Linked DNA regions of Homo sapiens: region 2 is linked to region 1. The links come from fine-mapping of genetic effects on gene expression. A gene starts in region 1. The other region holds a variant in brackets. All regions are shown on one strand. Distances are between the middles of the regions. Region 1 holds the start of NBAS (NBAS subunit of NRZ tethering complex). Region 2 overlaps NBAS (NBAS subunit of NRZ tethering complex).

The links.
Region 2: its variant is fine-mapped to the expression of NBAS in whole blood (INTERVAL, PIP above 0.99).

What each region holds. Positions count from the first base shown.
Region 1 is chr2:15,555,430-15,567,296 of GRCh38, forward strand. NBAS (NBAS subunit of NRZ tethering complex) reads right to left here and starts at 5,905. Exons shown (of 52, transcript NM_015909.4): 1 at 5,759-5,905; 2 at 3,151-3,205; 3 at 1,354-1,390. The coding sequence starts at 5,875. It overlaps LOC105373440 (a long non-coding RNA gene), which reads left to right and starts at 6,719. Exons shown (of 4, transcript XR_001739297.2): 1 at 6,719-6,754; 2 at 8,673-8,845; 3 at 9,636-9,769. RefSeq lists an enhancer at 5,695-6,104.
Region 2 is chr2:15,399,321-15,411,187 of GRCh38, forward strand. It overlaps NBAS (NBAS subunit of NRZ tethering complex), which reads right to left. Exons shown (of 52, transcript NM_015909.4): 26 at 2,848-2,981. Among named protein-coding and RNA genes, the nearest start is that of NBAS, 160 kb to the right of the region's middle. The variant T/C (reference allele first, on the strand shown) is at 4,601.

The sequences.
Region 1 (11,867 bases):
AAAAAGGGAAAGGACTTGAGATGTAACATTTTGCATAAAAACAAAAAGAGCTAGCTGATACAGGTTTATTATATTGTCAATAATTCTCAGTATGTTTATATTTCATAATTAAAAGAACTTTTTTAAAAAAAGAAGAAAAAGTCACTTGAAACAAATACTGACCCCAAAACCTTTGGGTTTAATTACCATAAACTCAAGAGCACAAATTGAACTATAATCTTTTTGAAAGCAGCATATCATGAGACAGATGAATCACTTAATGGTGCATTTGCAACCTGTACAATGATTCAAGGAAAAAGGCTTCTCAGGAGGAAGGGAGACAAAAAGATACCTACTTCTGATGCCTGATCATAAGGTTCTCACACAGAGGACAGGGCTTGTAGCAGAGTTAACTTTTTGAGTCTTCCTTCTCAATAAATAAAAAAAAGAATTATCAAGCAGCAACCTGAACAAGACAAGCTTGACACCTCATCCAAGGGTGTTCAGGACTAACAAGCTGTCGCCTAGAGAAGTCAGAAAACACAGCCCACCTCCCACACTCCTATCCTCTCCTTCCACTCTCTCTTCCTACTCATTGCTCTATCCTATCATATCCCACACCCACAAAAAAAGTGACACAATTAAGTATAGAAATTGTAAATATGCATACATATATACATGTATGCACATACACACACACATACATAGAGTAAAAGCAGAAAGACGTTGGAGCAAGTCCTAGAGAACGCCAAAGGTCTCTTTTATGGAACTATATTATCTCTGGAACTTTACGACAAGATATCCTCAACGAAGAAGCAATCTATGTAAATAATTCTATAAAACAATTCCTACACATGTATCTAAAAGCAGAATTATAACTTTTTTGTCATAATAATAATTTCTTTGTTCTTTCTAAAGCTGGAAATTAGCATCATCCCTGCAAATATACTTAACACTCAAGGAATTAAAAAATATACAAGAACTGAAACCTAAAGAACCTTCTCTGATATACAGCAGTTGAATATTAACCACAAGTGAGATGACATGACAAGAACAAAAATGTATTTTAAAAGATATGCAGGCTACAGATGCTTCATATGGACATTCAAGATAAGCCTGAGAATAGTCATCAGAGGAAGCAGAAATTGTCATGAGACATTCTTAATAGTAACTAAGGGAACAAAAACTACCCTAAGTCTACTGAGATATCTTGTCAGATTCTACCTAAATGTTTGAAATGTCTCATACTGAGTTTGCCTGAATGTCAGCAACTTTATCATGATCTAGAATTCAATTATGAAAACAAATCATATATAGAACAATATTGTTTATATTTGATGTTCATACTGTTTCTCTGAAGAACCGAAGACTCACCTGTACCAGATGTATTGGCGTAAAAATAATAAACGATCTGTAATCAAAAGAAATGGCAAAGCCAAATATAAATCAGCTGTTAAGAATCATTTTCAAATTAGATTTATAGATGAGAAATCTAAAATATACTACAGAGCGAGTCATTAAAAAAAATAAAGAACTCAAGTCTTAAAATGAGAGACTAAATATAACCTAATATACACTGTAACATTTACAGGGTCATATACTTATTAAATTCCATGTTTGTGTGTTATTCAAAAGTTTCAAGTATTTCCTAACTGTTCAAGAAATAAAAGCAGTTTGAGATGTTAAATTTAATCTAAGAAGCTTTCATGAAACCATGGACTAGAAGTTATAATAATCACCCCTTAGAAACCAAAATATTTGTATAAAAAATTAAAGCAAGATATATTTTACACTTTATAGCAAAGATTTTTAAAACAGTAATACCTAAAATGGGAAAGCCCACGGAAAACAAAACCTCTAACACGCTATAAAAAACAATGCTTTCTATCATCCTAAATGTACATGTATGTGTGTACCTGTGTATGCAGTTAGGTATATATCAATGGAAAAATATCTAAAGAATAACAGATTCTCTCTAGGTGGTATGAGGACAAATTTTTTTCTAATTTGTAGTTATCTATAGTGTCTGTATTTTCTACAATGAATTTTTATTATTTGTACACATTTTCTAAATTCTCAAAATTTAAAAGCATTTGTCATTATGAAAACTGAATATGCTAGTGCTTCTTGTATCAGAAGATAAAATTAACTATAATTAACTGTAATTTTATCAGAAGATAAAAGGATAATCAGAAGATTACAGTTAATTTCAAGTACTTAACTTCTGTGAAAATGAATTTTCTCTTTATAAGGAACTTAAATTCACTGGTATAAGGATGGACTTTGAAGCCAGAAAGACATGCAGTCAAATTCCAAATGAATGACCTTGAGCAAGTTTTCTTATCTAAAATCATAAAGGAGTAACGGCACCTTTCTGGTCTGATAAAAGGACTCTATTAATGAATATGGTAAACCCGTCATGGCACCAGCTCAGTAAACCTAGTGCTCAATCCTTTCTCAGACTCTTGTTAGTTCATACGTAAAATTTGTCAGGAGTTAAATGAATACCCTGGCTTATCAAATCTGTAATTTGAGTATCTCTGACCAGATCTATCTGAAACACCACATAGACCTCTTAAAATAGTCTCTCAGTGTATTTTCACCTTCAACATCCACTGACTTTCTGAGACTCATACTGGCTTTGACCTTCATTCCTTCTAGAACAGCGTCCCCCAACCTTTTTGGCACCAGGGACTGGTTTTGTGGAAGACAATTTTTCCATGCAACCTAGATCCCTCACACGTGCAGTTCACAATAGGGTTTGCACTTCCCTGATAATCTAATGCTGCCGCTTATCTGACAGGAAGTGGAGCTCAGGTGGTAATGCTCACTCACCCATCGCTCACCTCCTGCTATGCAGCCTGTTTCCTAACAGACCACAGACTGGTACCAGTCCATGGCCCAGGAATTGAGGACACCTGTTCTAGAATACATCCATAATGGTTAAACCAAAGCTATATACTTTAGCTCTAAGCTGCATTAGAGCTAAAAACGTGCATGCGTAAATATACAAATGTATACATATACATACATATGTGTGTATATATAAATATATATATAATTAAACTCAGATAACACACATTACTTTTATTAGGCTCCACATCAGAAGTCTAAAGAACACATTTTAACTGTTAACCATATCATTACTGTAGAGAAATAAGCTATATTTACCTCGAATTGCTTTCGTGATGATAAAGGATGCACCATGTTTTTGGTTGCCTCTAGGCTGGAATTTAAAACAAAAAACACTTACATTTGAATCTTCTAGTAGTATTAGACCAGTATTACTTATACAATATGTAAACTTATTTTTATTTACTAATACTCAGAGTTTTGGGCACAGGGAAGCAGTGTCTTAAAACTACTTAAAGACTGGATGTTCAGGTGCAGTGGCTCACGCCTGTAATCTCAGCACTTTGGGATGCCAAGGTGGGCTGACTGCTTGAGCCCAGGAGCTCCAGACCTGCCTGAGCAACGTGGCAAAACCTCATCTCTACAAAAAATACAAAAATTGGCCAGGCATGGCGGTGCATGCCTATAGTCCCAGCTACTTGGGAAGCTGAGGTGACCCAGGAGGTTGAAGCTACGAAGCTACAGTGAGCCCTGATCATGCCACTGCACTCCAGCCTGGGTGACAGAGTGAGACCCTGCCTCAAAAAAAAAAAAAAAAAAAAAAAAAGTAGACACAGGACGCGGGACAATAGGAGAAAAGTGAGCATAGCAGAGCTACAGGCACATGTCAGGACTAACCTTGCAGGAAAGAACAAGGATTGAAGCTGGAAACTGTTTCCAAATCAAAAACCAATCCAAAGACAAGAGAAGTCAAGGCCAAAGACCATACTGGTTGCCAGTTCAGCATACTCTATTGAGGCTGTAAGTTTTGCTCACAGGAAAAGTGGTCATATCTCCAAGGCCAATTCATTGACTATCTGTTGTGTATCTATACAGACAATGCTACTAACAAAACATACACAGATACGTAATTGCTATATTAAATAATTCCATTCCATAAGTATAGACTGAACACACCGTGGGTAGGTTCATGACGCTAGGCACTGCATAAGATGCACTAAAGTGCTGTCAAGAAAAGCACAATGGACATACAGTAAGTGTAGACAGATTTTTTTAAAAAACACAGAAAAGTTATTTCACTCAATAAACATGAATTGATTGTTGGATTCATGCAAGACACAATTTGGCCCTGGGAAGAGATATAAAGATGAATCAGATGTCTGCCCTCCAAGAGCTTATAATTCAACAGCTGAAATCAACAGAATGCAGAAATCGATAGAATGCAGAAATCAATTGAACTCCCCCACCCCCAACACACAAACACAAAACAAAGTGCTAAGGGTTTCAAAGTAAGTTAATTCTGTGGTTACTTTTTTGGAATCAATTTATGGTAAGCATTCTGAAACATTACTGCAATTAACCAATGAGTGTTAAGGAGTGGAAACTTATCTAACCAGCTGCCTCAGCAACAGCTTCCTAGCTGCATAACCCAAAAAATATTCACATTAAGACAAACTAAGTACTTGAAATTAAACAGTAATATATGCAGATCTCTACCCGTCTACAAAATAAATTATTCATGATAAGCACAAACTGCAGTGGGAAGGAGGCTACAGAGGAAAAAAATACAAACTTTGGGCTGAAAAATGAGTCGTTTCTCCAGCAAAGAAACACTCAGAAAAAATGTAAGATAACTCACATGGGCTGGACTACATAATCTTTAATAAAGGTTCTTTTCGATCTGGCTGCTTCCTCTGGGTCTAAAACAGTAACTGGCACGTGTTAAGCACTCAATAAATATCTGTTAAATAAACATGGATCCAAAAAATAATAATAATAAAAAATAAAATAAAATAAACATGGATCCATGGTTCCTACTCTTCATCACAGACCCGGGAGGCCTTCACTACCAAACAACTGATAATCCCAAGATCCAGTCCATAAATTATCAACCTCTATAACCCTTCTGTAGCGGAGATCCCAATCCCAGTCAGCAGCTCTTTACTCTGCACTTCCGTGGCATTTTGCTCACATCGCTAACTATAGCGCATAAAACGCTAGGTTATGAAAAACGTTTACGGGACTGTCTCCCCTCTAGACGAGAAGCTCCACGAAAACATATTCATCTCTGTATCCTTAGCACCTAGCACAGCACCTGTGACACCGAGACAGACGAACGGACACGCACACCCTTATTAAATGCTCTTTTATTGAAACACACAAGACCTGGCGCGATCCAGCCCCCAGTATGGGTAAAGGCTCAGATTCTGCGCTCTGCACCAGCCTGGCAGATGCTGCAGACTGTAAGGTCCTGGAAAATTCTCCCATCGCAGTTGAGCGTCGGCCCAGACTAGCCCTAGCCAGACCGCGAGAAGGGACCACTGAGGGTCCAGATAGGAGAAAGGACCCTCGAGTCCAGCGCTGTGCCTTCCCCTCCTAATACAGAGAGCGACACTAACAATCCCCTCTCCTCCCAATACAGAGAGCGAAACTGAGAACCAAAGTGGGATCGTACGCTCCCCAGAGCACGAAGTTCCAGCCCCCAACAACCGAATTCTGAGCCCAGGAAGAATCTCAGGGACCACCACCCCACCCCGCCCTAGACCCCCGCTAGCCCAAGGTGCCGTTGCCAAGGCGACCGCACAAGCCAACCGGCCCTAGTCCCCCACCCACCCGTCTCCACTCCCCTACGTGGCTCCTGCTACGTGGCTCTACCCACGAAGCGCCCGCGCCAAGCTGGCTGCTGCTGTAGATGGGCCTGGTTCACCTGTACTTCAGTCTCCGGTGGCCACTCGGTGTTGACCAACAAGTCATAGAGAATCGTCTCCTCCTCACCCTCTGCAGTGCCTGGACTCAAAGCCGGCCCTGACTCGGGGGCCGCCATGTTCGCCGAGGACTCAGGCAGCGGAGGAGTGTCTCTACGGAATCCCTCACAGGACAAGCTTCTCTATCCGCGGCCGCTTTTGTTTCACGGCAAGGAAATGCTAGGTTAACCCTTTTATGAGTAGGAAGGACAGGGACTATTGCTTGTCTTGGGAACGACTTGTGTCCCGGTCCTGATACACTCCTTGTTCATTAATCTACATGAGATCGGCCAAGTCATTGAGCCTCTCTTATAACTCAGTTTCCATAAAACAGAAATGGTAAAGGTACCCCACTGAAATGCTAATGTTCATTTGTATATTCTTTGCCTAACACGTAGAGAGAGTTCAAACAGTGGTTTTAAAATAAACAACTAAAGTTATCCAATGAAAGGTAGCAGAGGAAGGATGCTACAGGAGCTCAGAAAAGGCAACGAAGGCCAGAGTCTGCAGGGATTTCCTGGAGGACGTGGAGCTTGTCCCTGCGTCTTTAACAATAGGCAGAATTTTAATCTACTGGAGAAGCATTTCAAGTAGCGGGAAATGGAATGAGCAGAGACAGAGGCAGAAATACAGAGTTGAAAGAACTCTTTCAACGTGTCGCCAGTGAGTGACGACTTTCTCAGTGTGGGAGTAAAAGAATTTACCAAGACAGTGGTAGATAAAGAAAGACAGATTAAAGAAAGTATGAAAGTTCGTTGCCAGGGAGCAGCGGGCCGACTCAGCAGAGGAGGAGCTCATTGCTAGGAAACAAAGGCTTGTTGAGAATTTTATAGACTGGAACTTGGAGTGATTGATAACACCAGGTAGCAGGGAGTTAACTTGCTTTTTTTTTTTCTTTCTTTCTTTTTTTTTTTTTTTTTTTGTCAGCTGAAGTGTTTCAGAAATTGAGGCATTTGAAGGTAAGCAGGAAGTTTGTGAGTTAAGTACGTTATCTGGGTAGAAGGGCCATATGTCCTGGGCCATAAAGAAAAGTAGACCTATGGCTTATTTGTTTCTTCCTTTTGTTTATATGTTTTGGACCATGAAGAAAGACAGACGTATAGCTAATTTGCCTTATCTCTTTGTTTTTCCCTGCTCCCACTAGCCTGCCTTTTTTTTTTTCCTAATTAGTACTCAACAAGACGGGTGAATAGAACCCAAGTTGAGAAAGGGTGTAGGGGCAATAAAGTTGAAATAATAGGTTGAGAACCCGCATGGAGGGAGCGAAAAGGTCAACCCCATTTGTTCATTCATTCATTCATTCAACAAATACCTCTTTGTGGACAGTTATAAGCAGAGCCTACTGTAACATGAATGAATATATACTGTACAAAGTATTACACTGTTTCACATCAAAAGAAACACAAATACTGAATATCCCTTGAGATAATTATATTCATGATATCCATCAAGATGCATTAGGCGGTGATGCAATTAAAAGCCTCTGCTGGGAAGCCTCTAACCAGCTCCCATTTCTCTCAAAGTTTAATGACCTCAAAGCCCTACGTCATCTGCCTGCTCCCCTAAATCTCACACCTCATTTCCTGCTCCCCCTACTACCTTCAGCCACACTGGCTCTATTTCTGAACACACCAGACACACATCAACTTCAGGAGTTCTGCAAAGCCTGTCCCCTCCACTTGGAAGGCTTTCTACCAGATGTTTACCTGGTTCCTCCCTTATCTCCTTCAAGTTTTTGCTCAAATGTCGTCTCTCTCTGAAGCCTACCTTGACTGCTCATTTTTAAATTTGCAATGACCATTCTCCAACTCCAGCTTTCCAGAGCTGCTCTATTATTTTTTCCATTACACTTGTCATCACTTAAATGGCTATACAGTATATTTGCTTATTATCTGTCTCCATTCACTAAAAGGTAAGCCATGCCAGGTGCTCTATCTATATGCATGCAAATGCTATATCCATCCCTGCTATATCCCCAGAATTTATAACAGTGCCTGGCATAGAGCAGAGGACAAAATATATATTATTTGTTGAATAAATGACAGACTTCCCAGAAAATCTTTTACACATTGTCTCCCCATAGTATTTCTCTGCATAGCAGCTGTGCCCTTCAATCAAACCCCTCATTGTGAACACCAGACGTGTCTTCTCCCTACCGCACAAGGCTGACAAACTGTATACCTCCGGGGAGCCCCGCCCACATTGCATGCGGTAGAACATGAAGAGGCAGGAACACCATGCACATGGAATGCGGTGTGAGGGCTGGTTACTGGAGTCCTCCAGTACCTCAGTACAACCCCACCTATTTCTCCACACCAAGTTTCCTTGGCTCTTTATTCCTCTGTCTCATCCTTTCTCAGATAGATATTGGGGTTGCTTTCTGTTTCATCACTCTCTTCACCACTTTCACTCAATCTGTACAACCACGGCCAGGAGATAGCTGGTCAAACTGGCAAAGGATGCTTCCTTCTTAGCTGGTGTGCAAAGGGGACCACTGCAAATACACCATGAAGAATTTATTTATTTTACCATCATCACACTATTTTTGTTTGTTTGTTTTTGTTTTTGAAACAGGGTCTCACTCTTTCACTGAGGCCAGAGTGCAGTGGCACAAAGAGAGCTAACTGAAATCTCTACTTCCTGGGCTCAAGCAATCCTCCCACCTCAGCCTCCTGAGTTGCTGGGACCACAGGTGCATGCCACCATGCTGGGCTAACTTTATTATTTTTTGTAGAGATGGGGGGTCTTGGACTTCTGGGCTCAAGTGATCTGCCTCGGCCTCCCACAGTGCAGGGATTACAGGCACGCACCACCATGCCCAGCCTCACACCATGTTAATTGTTTTATCCATCCTCATCCATACCCCACTTACCATAGCATGTACAAAAGGACAGAAAACATAAACTCATGCCTGGCAGAGAGCTTCTACTCTGAAGAAACAACAACCGAAGTGTCACAGGATGAATCTATGCTATTTGGAGAGGGAGTATACATTTAACTTGAAGCAATCCCTGGAAGAAAAATTCTACTAGCAGAGATGCTCTGAGCAGGTAAGTGGGTTCTTAAACCTTCAGCACCACTAGTTAAAATCCAGAAGAGTTCCTGGAAGGGGAGAAATGTGAGGTGACCAATAAAAGGGAAGAAGATGGTAAGAATATGTATGCCACAAGAAGAACTCCAAATGTTGAATATCAGACACGGGTTGGAAAAGAAAAGACAAAGATCTGATCAAGTTCAACTGAATCAAAGGAATAGGATGACTTAAAACAGATTGAGTGGCTGAAGCCAAATTGCTACTTGGTCTTATTTACAGTGACTATATAGCAAAGTATCCAAACTGGGATATTTTTGAAAAGAAAAAGCCATGATTTTAATAGTTATGCTAGGACAACAAGCATGAAACAGGGCTGTCATGGGCAAACTGAGATGATTGTCACACTAATCCTAAACAGCAGAGTGGGTAATTTAATGAAGAGGTGGTGAGCGTTTCACAAGGATAGCAAGACTCTTCTGTTCGTCATTATTCTCTTCTTTCTTCCCTCGTGCTTGTAGTGACACTGGTCATTTTTGTCTGCCCAGGCCCTTTGCTTCCTTCGGAGACTGTTCTAGCTGCTCTTCATTCACTCAGTCAGATAATTCCTAGTGGGGCCGCCAATCCCCAAACTCTGCCCCCTTGACCCAAAGAACTCCATTCCTGCTACTTTGAGCATCAGGTTGAGAATCCTTCCCTGGGATTTTTTTTTTTTTTTAAGTGGAAATGGAGGAAAAGGCTCCTTGCCTTTTTGGGTCACAGAGTTTGAAGAATATTGGGGTTATTAGCATCCATCTTATTCATTCCAGAGAGAAAGCCTGTCTATATAGTGAAAGAATGAAACCAATACATTGAAAAAAACTGAGAAGAGAAAGAGGTAGAGACTTCATCTGATACAAGCATGCTTGAAACAAGAGACACCTGTATGATTCCATCTTCCCAGGTAAGTGATCTAGTTCATTCTCTTTTATGCTTCAACTAGTTTGAGTTTCTAGGCATTGAAACCACCCCTCTCTTGGTGTTTCTACCAGTGGAGTTTGCATTATTTATTTTACCTTAAAATATAGAATATCAGACACGGGTTGGAATAAGGATTTTACCTTATTTATTTATGTACGTATTTATTTAAGACAGGCTCTTGCTGTGTCACCCAGGCTGGAGTGCAGTGGCGCAAACACAGCTCACTGTAGCCTCAACCTCCTGGATGCAAGCGATCCTCTTGTCTCAGCCTCCCAAATAGCTGGGACTACATGCACGTGTCACCACACCCAGCTAAAGATTTACCAAATTTAGAATCTGTATGTTGTGTATGGATCTCTGCAATGTTGCTTCTGAATTGACAGATTGGTGTTATTAGTTAATAATTGAGAGTGTTCATAGCTTACTGAGCTTTTCCATCCTCACAGCCACTGCTAAAATTGACAGACTCAGAAGACAGAGTCTATCTCTATTTCACAGATAAGAATATTAAAGCTTAGAGAAATCCAAGATTACAACAGAGCTAAAATTCAGACAAGGTCCTCAGGTCTTGATCCCGTGCTTTTTCTTTAAACTACCACATGTTACCGAGAACGTCATGGAAAAGATTATTTAAAAACATAGATGGAGCACTCAGATGGTTCAAAGTGAAAATAAACAGTTAAGGATGACCAGGAGTACCAACACGTGGAACTGGGGTATTATCAACCTGTCAAAGGAAAATTAAATACATTATATGTAAGAGTTTGGTTGACAAATACTATTGTGATCATCTAATCAACTCCTTAATTTAGCTGAAAGTCCATCTCTGGTTCAAAAATATTTGAAATCATGAATAAGTCTTTTTTTTTTCTTTTAAATGTTTGGAGAGACAGAGTCTTGCTATGTTGCCCAGACTGTTCTTGAACTCCTGGCCTCAAGTGAGCCTCGCACCTCTCAGCCTCCCAAAGTGCTGACATTGCAGGTGTGAGCCACTGCACCCAGCCTCTTTTCTCTCTCTCTTAGTTTCTTTTTTATGAATAAATCATTCTGAAGAGAAAAATTATGTTTTCCAAATAACCAACACAAATGGTAACTGTAAACTGCTTAAGGAAATAAGATAAATAAAATCTGAGACAGTTTCAAAGTAGGCATCATCATCATTATCATCATCACTATGTTTTGTGTACCTACCCTGCTTCAAGCACTATACCAGGTATCTACAAGTAGATATAGATGTACTTTAGTAAACTGAGGCTCTAAATCACTGTGACCCAACCAAGGTCACATGCTGGTAATGGTAAAGCCACAAATGAAATAGTTTTTGTCTAACAGAGAAGGTACTACGATTTACCCACTTCAAAGAGTAGTGATCTGATGATGATATAAGCCTTTGATGAAAAGGAAATAAATTTAGAAAAATTTTCCTATTTCTTCCTAGCCTTATAGCATATTAAGTGTACTTCAACTGAACTGAATATAATCCTCATTCACTTTGCTGATGACCACAGACATTCTTTCTTAGAATTAGACAAAAACTTAACATCATCTCACATAAAGGAATCATTTTTTGGCCAGGCGTGGTGGCTCACTCCTGTAATCCCAGCGCTTTGGGAGGCCGAGGCGGGCAGATTACCTGAGGTCAGGAGTTCGAGACCAGCCTGGCCAACATGGTGAAACCCCATCTCTACTAAAAAAAAATAAAAATACAAAAATTAGGCAGTCACGGTGGCACACCCCTGTAATCCCAGCTATTCGGGAGGCTGAGGCAGGAGAATTGCTTGAGCCCGGGAGACAGAGGTTGCAATGAGCCGAGATTGTGCCGCTGCACTCCAGCCTGGCCGACAGAGCAAGACTCTGTCTCAAAGAAAAAAAAAAGGGAATCATTTTTCTTCTCTTAACTCATCAATGTATAGCTGTCATTAGCTCATAGATTCATTAGTAGGAGCTCAGCCTTTTAGCTCCTATCAGTTAAAAAGTCCATTAAGCTAAAAGCCATTAATGATTCAGCATTTAACCCTTTTATGCTTTTCAATATTAGAGACAAAAGAGATTAGATCATCATATGAAGTTGCTTCTGTTTT
Region 2 (11,867 bases), 160 kb before region 1:
TCGGAGGAACCAGGGGCTTCTGCATCTCTTGTCACCCTCCAGGGAAAAGCAATTTGACTACTGCCACACTGATAGCCTTTGGGTTGAGGTTTTTAAATGATGGGAACAACAGTTTGCTACAAAAATCTATTAAGACTATCTAGTTTACCTGCCTTTGGCTGCCTATGGAAGGCCTACAGTTCTCAGAGACACACTTGCTACACTCTGCTGCTCTCTACTAGGGATGTGAGGTAGCCTGTGTTCAGGTACAGGTCTGAATAACAAACAGATGCTGAGTCCACTCTGATTTACCTTTCCCTACATGAAGAAGGAAGGAAGAAAAAAGAGGAGTACAAATAAACTTATCAAGGAAAAAATATAAGAACATACCCTAAAGGTCTGAAGGTTATGAATTTCCAGAATGGATTAGACCATTCAGTGAACACCACAATGAATTTACATATGAAACAGAAACACAAAAAATGAAGATATTGAAATCTTCTTTAAAAAAAATCCATATTTAAATAGGGATTATTCAGAATGCCATTGAACTTCTCAACAATACTAGAAAGAAAAGACAAGAGTCATACCTTCAAAATTCACAAGATAAGGATTCTAAGTCTATGATTCCATGTACAATTAAACCTTCTACCAAGTAAAAGTGTGCAATTGTGGCATTTTCCTAATATGTGACAGTCTTTTAAAAAATACCTCCCAGGCAATCTTTGACAGGAAGCTATTTGACAGTATGCTCCACCAAAATGAGGAAAAAGTGAAGAAAGAAGAAAGGAAAACCAAGAAATGCAATATGCAACACGAGAGAGAGGCAAACGAAGTCCCGGGATAATAGATGGACAACAGACACAGAGAACAATTCATTCATACCAATTCCAAGAAGGATGTTTCAAAAGGAAGAGAGCGAGAAAAGAAGAGACAGAGAAAAAAAAAAACATGAAAGGAATAGAGAGATCATTAAATAGTTTTCACGACTGCAAGTAGTTCATGAGGGTGATGGAAAAAAAGAAAACAACAGAAAAGGAAATTATTCAATCCAGGAAAAACAGAGAGTTGTATTAAAAGGAAAATAAATCACACCTAGTTCCGCAGTATAAACAATATTTACGTAATCATAATGATGAAAACACTGGAGAATGGTAGGAGAAGTGGATATGGGAGAAGGGAAAGGACTTCCATAAAAGGAAGTCAAAAATGATCTAAAATTGCAAAATCAAAAAATAACAACACGAGCATAACATTTTAAAGGAGGTAGGCAAAGACAAGGAAAAACCTACCAGTGAAAGTATTTGCTTTTTGAAGATAGGAATCCAAGGATGGGAAAAGTGGGCAGCAAACAGCTGCTTATCAGCTGATATTACTAATACCAGTCTTAGAATTCCCTGACTTTATGTTCATACATTATTTATATTTAAAAATCAGAGGAAGATCATGTCCCTTTAGGCTCCTTTATTTTAGAAAAGTGCCTCCCCACGGCCCCACATTTTGTCTTCCTAAATGACACTAACTGTTTAAAGTAAAAAGACCAGTTAATGCATAGAATATCCCACATTCAGTAGTTGTCTTACTGCTTTCTTCATGGTGTTATTTACCTTGTCTCTCTATTTCCCGTATTAACTGCAAATTAGAAGTTCAACCTAAAAGACTGATTAGACTCAGGGTAAACAACTTTAGCAAAAATATTTCTTAAGGGATGCTGTAAGACCAGGTACTTCATATTGGATCACATCAGGAGGCACGTAAGGTCAGGCTGTCTGACTGTAAGTTATGCCACCCTTCACGACTTGGTTAAGATCATGGCAGTTAGAGCCCAACTTTGAAACTTAAAAAAAAAAAGTCACTAGGGTAATACTTTGGTATCATGCAAATAACCTTTTATCATCAATCTTTCACCTGATTTCAGTACCACTAATGACTGCATGAATAACTCTTTCATGGTAGATTGCAAAATTGGTGACTGCTATCATTTGCTTCATAAGAAATAAAAATTTCCTTTAGTCAGATATGAGCCCCCCCTCCCAAAATAAAAAGAAGAAATAAAAATGTCCTTAAAAGAAAAAGGAAAAGAGAGAAAAGAGGGAGAAGATAAAAAGAGAGCAAAGAGAAAGAGAAAACAGAGAATGAGGCTTTCTTGTCTAAATATCTGATTTTGTAAATCAGGAAACTAATGACCAAAGAAGTAAAGTGACTTGGTTAAAAGTCATAAAAGTTTAAAACAGGTCTGCTGGTATTCACCACTCTTTCATGTGTTGTTATTTATGTCTCCAGATGTGAAATTTATCATATGTGCTAAATTTAATAGAGGGATTAGATTGCTACCTGACTTCCAAAGAAAACATACAAATTTGACTTGCATACAACTAAATAATCCAAAAGCATATTATATACGTTTCCATTTAAACATAAAAGCAGTTAAAAATTAGGTACATTCACTACTTAAAAGAAGTACTATAGGCAAAGGCCAAGAAGAAATAATTCATAGAATAAATATAATTAGCCAATAAATATGAAAAATGCTTCATTAAAAACACAATTACTACCTACTGACTTATAAAAAGTAGTTTTTGTGGAGATCGTGGTGGTATTTTTGTTTTTCAATAGGAAATTATCATGTTTGACAAAATTCAGAATTTAATTATAATTACAGTTGAACAAAATATAGAACTTCCCATATATTGGTAGGACAAGAAATGTTTATCCTAGGCAATAGGATTGCAGATAATTTTATTTTCTTCCTTATGTTTTTTTCACATTCCCAAAATTCTCTAAGGTAAGCATTTGGGGAAGCAACGTTTTTGTTTTAACTGTTAGAATAAAAAAACACAATAAGACTGGCATACTGTGTATTCTTACCCATATCCTCTTTCTGGCAGACATTCTAGTAGGTCATAGCAAAGACAGAGTTGATCATTTCGTTCACAGGTATAGATGCACTCTAGTGCTATTGCCATCAGTTGGTCCTGATCAGGAATAATTTTTTGCTGCAGCTACAGAAAATAAAGTATGTTGTACTAAATGTCAACAGATTTATAGTCAATTTTTCCATATCCCAATACTACTGTCAACAGAATATTAAATAGCACAATTAATCAACTATAGAAACAAGTCTTGATTTTTCTTTATAGATTTCTGGGGTCTTTAATAATTCTAACTGAAATCACATTTTAATTACAGATCAACTATAAAAGATAATTTGTAACCCCATAAGCTATGTATCAGCTGAAAACAGATTCTTCAATTTATGACCCAGTCAATATAGAAAAAAGAAACACTGTGAATTAAAAAGGCAATTCATTAAGAACATTTCTAACCCTGAAGCCAAATTCTATGTGTTTCAGTTACAAAGTTATATAAAATTCCTTAACTAATATTCAAAGATGTTACAACCTATTACTTTTCAGTAGGCATTATATATTACTCATTTAACTACAGAGTGCTGACATTCTATTCAAAAGAAATCCAACTGTAATAGATCAATACACAAATCACAGAACACATTCCATATTTCTGATGAAGAAAGATGGCTACTTAGGGTGACTTTCTGTATAGAACAAAGCATTTCCCATGGCAAACCACAGATTCCCATTCTTGGAGTATTTTCCAGGATATGAAAATAACCAATTGATTTTTTTCTCATCTATAAAGCATGAATATTAACAATACCTTTCTAAGAAGACTATTTCAAGGATTAAATTAATAAATATAGAATGAAAAATAAATACAGCAAAAAATCATTTGCATGCTTATATTATTAGCACCACAGCAACCAAAATGAAAGTAATTTTCTTAGAGCTCTTTTGAACAATAAAATAAATCTAAGATAATTTCCATGATAATAGTCTACTGGTTTTCAATGTTTTAGTAGAAACTCATCAGTAAACACAAAAGAGATAGGAAAGTGATGGAGAGAAGCTACCAAACAAGGGCATTTTCTCAGTAGAAAAATCACATCAATGGACGTAAAAAAGAAACTTTCAAGGTTACCAGGAAAACAAAGTTTTCCAAAGCTGTTGAATTAAAGGATTTATATACATTTCTTCAAGGTAGAGTTGGCCCTCCATACCTGTGGGCTCCACTTCCCTGGATTCAACCAGCCATGTATCCAAAATATCTGGGGGAAAAAGTGTCTGTACTGAACATGTACAGACCATTTTTTCTTGTCATTATTCCCTAAACAATATAGTATAAAAACTATTTACATAACATTTACATTGTATTAGGTATTATATGTAATCTACAGAAGATTTAAAGTATACAAGAGGATGTGCAAAGGTTATCACAAATACTACACCATTGTGTATCAGGGACTTGAGCATCCATGGATTTTGGTAGCCTGGCGGCAGGAGGGCTTAAGAGGGGTACTAAAGCAATCCCCCCCAGATACTGAGGGATGAACGTATTCATCTGAAAAATGTCATCTGACAAAGAGTTAACCAAGGTTGCAAAGTGACTAACTGGTAAAATAGGAACAAGCTGACAGTAATAAAAATAAGTACTGTTGAAAATTAATAAAAACAGCTACCTTTTCCTGATTTATTTTTCCTTCCTTCGTGTGTGTGTGTGTGTGTGTGTGTGTGTGTGTGTGTCTATACACTTTTTTTTTTTT[T/C]CCAGATACAAGGTCTCACTATGTTGCTCAGGCTGGTCTCAAACCCCTGGCCTCAAGTGATCCTCCTGCCTCGACTTCCCAAAGTGCTGGGATTACAGGCATGAGCCACCACACACAGCCCTCTGATTTCTTATTGTGTGCCAGGTACCATTTCTAAGTGTTTTGTGTGCACTAATTCATAAATCGTCATAACAATCCTATAAAATTACTACTAGTACTATTCTCATTATACACAAATGAAAAACAAATACCCTAAGAGGTCAAATAATTTGCCTGAACCCACAGAGCTAATAAGTGGTAAAGCCAGGATTCAAACCAGGCAATTGGCTCCAGAGCCTAAACTAAGCAAGACAGGCTCTCATAATCCTGCATTCAGGAAGAATGAAAGAAATTGAGAGAAGATATGGCAATAAAACACTCATATATGGTAAGAAAACATCCCTGGAAGATAAAAACACTGAAACCAATTTCAGTCAAGGAACAATTTGGGAAACCATTTGAAATAAAAGCCAAAGTCCTTGATGTCTTACTTGTTCTCCCCACTTCCTATCTTTCCCTCTGTGAGACATTAAATAATCACTTTTTTTTTTAATTTTTTTTTTTTTATTTTGAGACAGAGTCTCGCTGTGTCGCCCAGGCTCAAGTGCAGTGGTGCAATCTCGGCTCACAGCAACCTCCACCTCCCAGGTCCAAGCGATTCTCCTGCCTCGGCGTCCTGAGTAGCTGGGATTACAGGTGCCCACAATCACATCTGGCTAATTTTTGTATTTTCAGTAGAGATGGACTTTCACCATGTTGGCCAGGCTGGTTTCCAACTCTTGACCTAAGGTGATTCACCCACCTCAGGCTCCCAAAATGCTGGGATTACAGGCATGAGCCACTGCGCCCGGCCCTAAAGAACCACTTTTACATTCAATGTCCTTGAGTCCATATTTGACCACATATGTTCAAACTTTACGTTGAGAATCCTTTAACAGTCCTTCAATATGAAAGGTAAAGAATAAATCTTTTGCCTTCCACTTAAACACCTCTATGGCCTGCTCCCATGAACCACTTACCCTTCTACATAAAGTTTTATTTCACTCAAATTAAATTACTTGCATTTACCTAAACATGATATTAACCAGATTATGTCTCCTTGTTTTAGTCTACTCCTACCTGGAATGTCTTCTCAAGAAGACATGTCTTGCCATGTCTAAAACCTACCCAATAATCCAGTGTTATCTCCGTTTGACTTTGACTTAAATTCAGCTTTCCCAGATGTCTACAGTCCTGGAGTATGCTCAACAGTTGCTAGTCCAGTGAATAAGTCCTTATACTACTCTCATACATAAGATACCCTTCTCTCTCTGTATTCCTATGGCACATTTCTTTTCTCTTCTTATGCCATTCTGCATATCTTTTAAAATATAATCTATCATGTACATGAAACATACTGTTCAAATTTATAAGACATTTTTCAATCTTTCCCTGTTAGAATCCCTATAAGATGCCTAACTTCATATAGTCTAAGACACACTTTTTTTTCATTATTCCTTCCCTATTATCTCAGTTGTCACTTTTATACTGTCATTTGCCCTTTCTCAAGCTAAAAGAGGACAGCCCATCTGGGACTTCCTAAGAAGTCAATGAAATGAGTCTTCCACACCATAGGCCGCAGATCATCACCCATACTGCATAGCAAGGTAAAATGCAAAAGAATAATAATTTCTAAAAACTCTTAAAATTATGCACTATATACAACTAGAAAAGAACACAGATGATAAGATAGGATACCTGGAATATCCCAAAGAATCAAGCAATCAAATCAGTGAAGTAGCAGAATACAAAACTAACATATAAATAGCTTTTATATACACAAACATTAAATAGTTAGAGGAAATGAAGGTAGATAGTATAAACAGAGAAAACTTAAAACTTAGGAATAAATTTAACAAAAAATGTGCAAAACATCTAAGAGGAATATTTTCAAGCAATTCTAAAAGAGATTTAAGAATACATAAACTAATAGAACAACATCCGCTATTATTGGATAAGATGACTGAACATTATACAAATATTGGTCTCCCTAAGTTAATGTACAAATTCAATGCAATCACAATAAAATACCAATAAGCAATTTTATGAAAGTAGACAAACTGTTACTAAAGTTCAGATAGAAAAACAAATATACAATAACATGTAAAAAAAAAAAACAAAACAAAAAAACATGAGGAAAAAAACCCACAGAGGAATACTACCTCCTCAGACATTAAAACACACTAAAATCTCTATAATTAAAATCATGAAGTACTAGTGCATGGACAGACAGACCAGTAGAATATAGAAACTCTAGAATTAAACCCATGTACAGATGGAAATTTAGGTATATGACAAAGGTGGCATTTCAAATCACTAGGGTAATGGTAAACTTTTTAATAAATGATGCTGGAACAACTGCGTGGTCATTTGGGAAAATAAAATCAGATCCATGTCTCACAATACAAAAGAATAAACTCCAAATAAATTGGGAAGAGAAAAATAAAACCATGCAAGTACTAGAAGAAAACGTGAGAGAATTCTTCCTTAACTCTGAGTATGAAAAGGCTTTCCAACTATTACTCAAAATACAGAGGCAGTAAAAGATCGAACAATTTGACTACACAAAAATTAAAAAGTGAAAACATTGTATGACACAATAAACAAAGTCAAAAGACAACTGACCAACTGGGAGAAATATTAATATATGCCACAGAGAAAGGGTTAGTTACACGAATATGTAAGAATTCCTAAAAATTAAGGTACAAAGGAACAAAAACCCTATCGAAGAATGGAGTAAGGACAGGAATAAATTCACAAGAGAGGTAATGCCTATCTAACATATCGGAAAATGTTAAAACTCTTAATTAGAAAAGCACAAATTGAAACAACACTGAAATACCATTTCTCACCTATCACATTGGCACAAATTTTAAAATATGACAACAAATTCTGTTGGCAAAATTGTGGAGAAACGGGCATACTCCTACTTGGCTGGTGGGAATGTAAATTAGAACAGTCCTACTAAAGAAAAATTTGGCTACATCAAGACAACTCTTGCCTTTTTAAACCCAGCAGTCTCCTTCCAGGAATATATGCTGAAAATACACCAATAATATAAAAATACATGTGGACAAGGTTATTCATTGAAGCACTGCTTGTAATTGCAAAAATATTGGGAATGGCATGTATCCCAACACATGGAAAGCTAGTGAGACTAAGTAAGTTTTTAAAATTTTATTAGATTTAGATTTATATCCATATGTGGCTAGTGACTACCATTTTGAATAGCATAGCTTGAGAGGTACTTTTCACTTCCTGAGGACCATAGACCAAGAGAAAGTGCACAGAAAATTGCAGCCAAAAGTTTAAGGGGTTAAGTATGCCCTCCGCAAACATATCTTGCTGGGACAGGAGTCCAGGACCTGCCAAGGAGAGGGGCCTAGTAATCACCCAATACTTCTGATACTTTCTGGAGGACTACACCCTAGGAATAGGGGAGAACTGGAAATAGGAGAGTCTTTTTGAAACTTGAAACCGCTCAATCCCTGATCAGATGACAGTGACTTCACTACTCAGAGAATAAAATGGCAAAGAGAGTGGAGATTATTTGCCACACGGGTAACTAGCAAAGGATAATTTCCATATCACAGTACTGCAAATTAAACCACAAGGAGATGTTGCTACGTACACAGCAGAATGAGCAAAATTTTAAAAAAGACCCTCAATGGCAATTACACAGGTGTTCTCTTTAGAAAAATGTCTAGCCTTATACATTATTTGTAGTTTTCTGTATTTATGCCATATTATTTTTCTATGCTGCCATAATAAATTACCACGAACTTGGTGACCTAACACAAATTTATCCTCTTACAGTTCTGTAGGTCAGAAACCAAAATGGACCTGACTGAGCTAAAATTCAGTTGTCAGCAAATAAATGTGTTCCTTCTGATGTTCTAGGAGAGAACCCACTTCCTTACCTTTTCCAGCTTCTAGAGGGTGCCCACACTACTTGTCTCAAGGCCCCTTTCTCTATCTTCAAAGACAGCAACAATCTGACAATTCTATAGCATCCTGACCACAGCCAGAAAGATCTGCTACCTTTAAGGACTGGACACACCTGGATAATTCAGGATAGCTTTGCCATCTAAAAGTCCTTAGTTTAATCAAACCTGCAAAGCCCCTTTTGCCAGGTAAGGTAACATCTTCATAGGTTCAGGAATTAGGACATGGACACTTTGGGAGGCCATTATTCTACCTACCACATGTGCTATACTTCAGAATAAAAATATAATAAAGTAATACGCATACTTGACTATTCAAAGTCTGGTTAAGATTATCCTCATCCAACACCTGAACAATTCAGATCCTCTGGTCATTTTAACTCTGATGCTAAAACTACCTTCTTACTATTGTTCACCTTGCTTTTAATACTTCCCATACTTTTTCATTATTATTAATTTATACACTGAATGCTTTATATTTTTCTCATATTTACTGTTTCCTAAGTATGATTATTTTTTCCCCACTCTTTATCATTCCCTCTTATATCTCACTACTTTCTTTTTGTATATAATTTCCTTCTTCATGAAGTACATCCTTGAATAATTCTTTCAGGATGGGTCTGTAAATGATAAACTCTCTGTTTTCACTTATCTTTAAAAAGTCTTTTTTACATTCACATTTGAATGATAGTGTCTCTAAGTAAAATATCCTGGGTTAGAAATGCAGTATACTATGTGGCTTAAAGATTTTGAAGTCATACTACTTAGGCTTAAATCCCTAATGCATCAGTAAATAAGAAACATATAATGTGAGCAAGCTAATTAACTACTCTGCTTTCTCTGAATCTATAAAATGCGAACAATGATAGCTATATAGTCATAAAAATTAAATGAGTTAATACATGTGAAATGTTTAAAACATAACTACCAAAGAAAAAGCATTAAGTAGCCAGGCGTGGTGGCTCATGCCTGTATTGCTAGTGCTTTGGGAGGCTGAGCTGGGAGGACTGCTTGAGGCCAGAAGTTCCAGAGACCAGCCTGGGCAACGTAGCAAGACACCATCCCTACAAAAAGTTATTTTAAAAGCATCAAGTAAATCCTGGCTATCATTAACTATTAGGTTGACTTAAATATCAAGGTTAATTTTCCTTGACATTTAACACATATATATTATTTCATTGTCTGCTGGTATCCATTGTTCTTAAGAAGTCTGCTTTCAGATTTACGGTTTTCCTTTGACTGTAACTTTTGTTTAATCCTAGGCCATTTTTAAGATTCTCTCTGTGCCCGTGGTATCCTTAAGTTCCATTAGAGTACATCTAAATATAGGCTGAACTGTATTTCACTTATCCTCCTCAAGATCTGAATGCACCTCGTATCTTTCATTGATTTTAGGAAAGTCCCACATTGAATACTGTCTGCTTATTGTCATCTCTAGTCTCTCTTCCTGGAATGCTTATTACTCTCATGACAGACCTGCTCTCTCTATCCTCAATGTCTTTTAACCCCATATATTTTTCATTTCTTCACCTTCATGTGTAACAATCCAGAAAATTTCTTAGATTATCTTCAAGATTTCAATTCTTTAATTGTAGCCAAAATTCTTTTGAATCCATCCATTTAATGTTTTGCTTTTATTATTACAGTTTCAAATCTAGAAGTTCTATGTGCTCTTTTTCAAATCTTACTCTTTTTTTCACAATTTCTCCTTCCTATCTCATGTCTTTATTTCTTTCCTCATATCCTAAATATTTAAAATATTCATTTTATAGCCTGCATCTGATCATCTATTACCAGAGGGGAAGTGGAGCAAGGCCTGCCACGGAGTTTTGCTCAAAGTTTAGTTTCCTTTTGTGTTTTATAAAGTTGGATTGTAAACTTATCCTCATCAAAGCTTTATCTATAAGAATCTTGTACAATCTAGATTAAAGTGAGTCCTTCAGAGAGGTTTTGCTTTTGCTGCTACCAAGCAAACTAGGTATCACCAGCCCATGTCCAGTTTTATCACAGGTCACAGAGGCGTATTAATTGAAAGCACAAATTCATGTTAGGCAAGCCTGTTGTTTGACTGCTCAGAAAGAAACTCCCTGCCCCCACATTCCCCACTCCCCTAGAATCCAGAATACATACCCAGGGAGTCATGCTCCTCTGCTACCTTCATGTGCCAATGATAAGCAGTTTCCTATTCTACATTATTGACAATGCATCTTTTAAAGAGCCATGGCATTATATAGAAGTCTTATTTCTTCTTTTTCTTTTATTTTCTGCATGACAAAGAATCTTTAATTTTAAATGAGTATCAGTATACCAAGTAATAACATGTAGAAAGTTTGTGAATTCTATCATCTGGTGATTTTGATTAAGAGAAACTAAATGTAGCCCAAACAATTCCCAAGTGTTCATTATTCTAACCGTTAGCAAGAATAAACTACTTTAAGGCTTGCTGCAACTTCTCACAGGTTCAAGTAACTATTTAATACTTTTTCATAAAGCCCATGACCTTCAAGAAAGTGTTAGGGCAAAAAAAAAATTATTTCATCCCTTTTTTTCTTCAAAGAAGTGGATTTCTTCTTACCAGATCTAAGAAAGAAAAAGTCAACACTGATACATGTGTATTTGACTAAAAGGCATAGGAAAACAGACAACAAGTGCTCATTAAATTTCTAAGAAATATGAGGGAAAAAGATAAAATCTTTGCATAAGTTCTAAGTCTGTACAAAGAAGCTAGATTTGCTACTCTCAAAAAATTAAAACACCTACTGTATAATATACAGAAATAATTTAATGCCTTTTCACAAGACCATAACTTGAGCTTTGCTAAAGCTTCATATTCCATGCGGGCATCTAAAATGCCAGTCCATGAAACAGGTGCTCCTTTCTTCTGGAAGTTTCCATGGATTTCTAGCCAATATAGCAAAGGTTGTCCAAGACTTCATCCCAGTTCTGCTAGAAGTAGGTCTGGAAGATGGGCATCTTCTCGTGGGTCTCCTGCAGTTCCGTGGGATCCCAGTGCTGCAGCTTCCAAGGCCTTGAACACGTTCTCCCTCTGCGGATGGTACTGTTCAATTTCAGCCTGAGCTAAGGCACTGGCCTGCTTCCTCCTCCTGTTCTTTTGCTTGGTACCCCTCCTCGGTGGATGGCTTCTCAGCCTACAGCAGCTGCTGGGGCCAACCGACTGGCCATGGCTGTGGTGACTCTGAAGCCGAGGCAAGCGCCCTAAATCGGCTCCAGGGTCAGCTGACCAG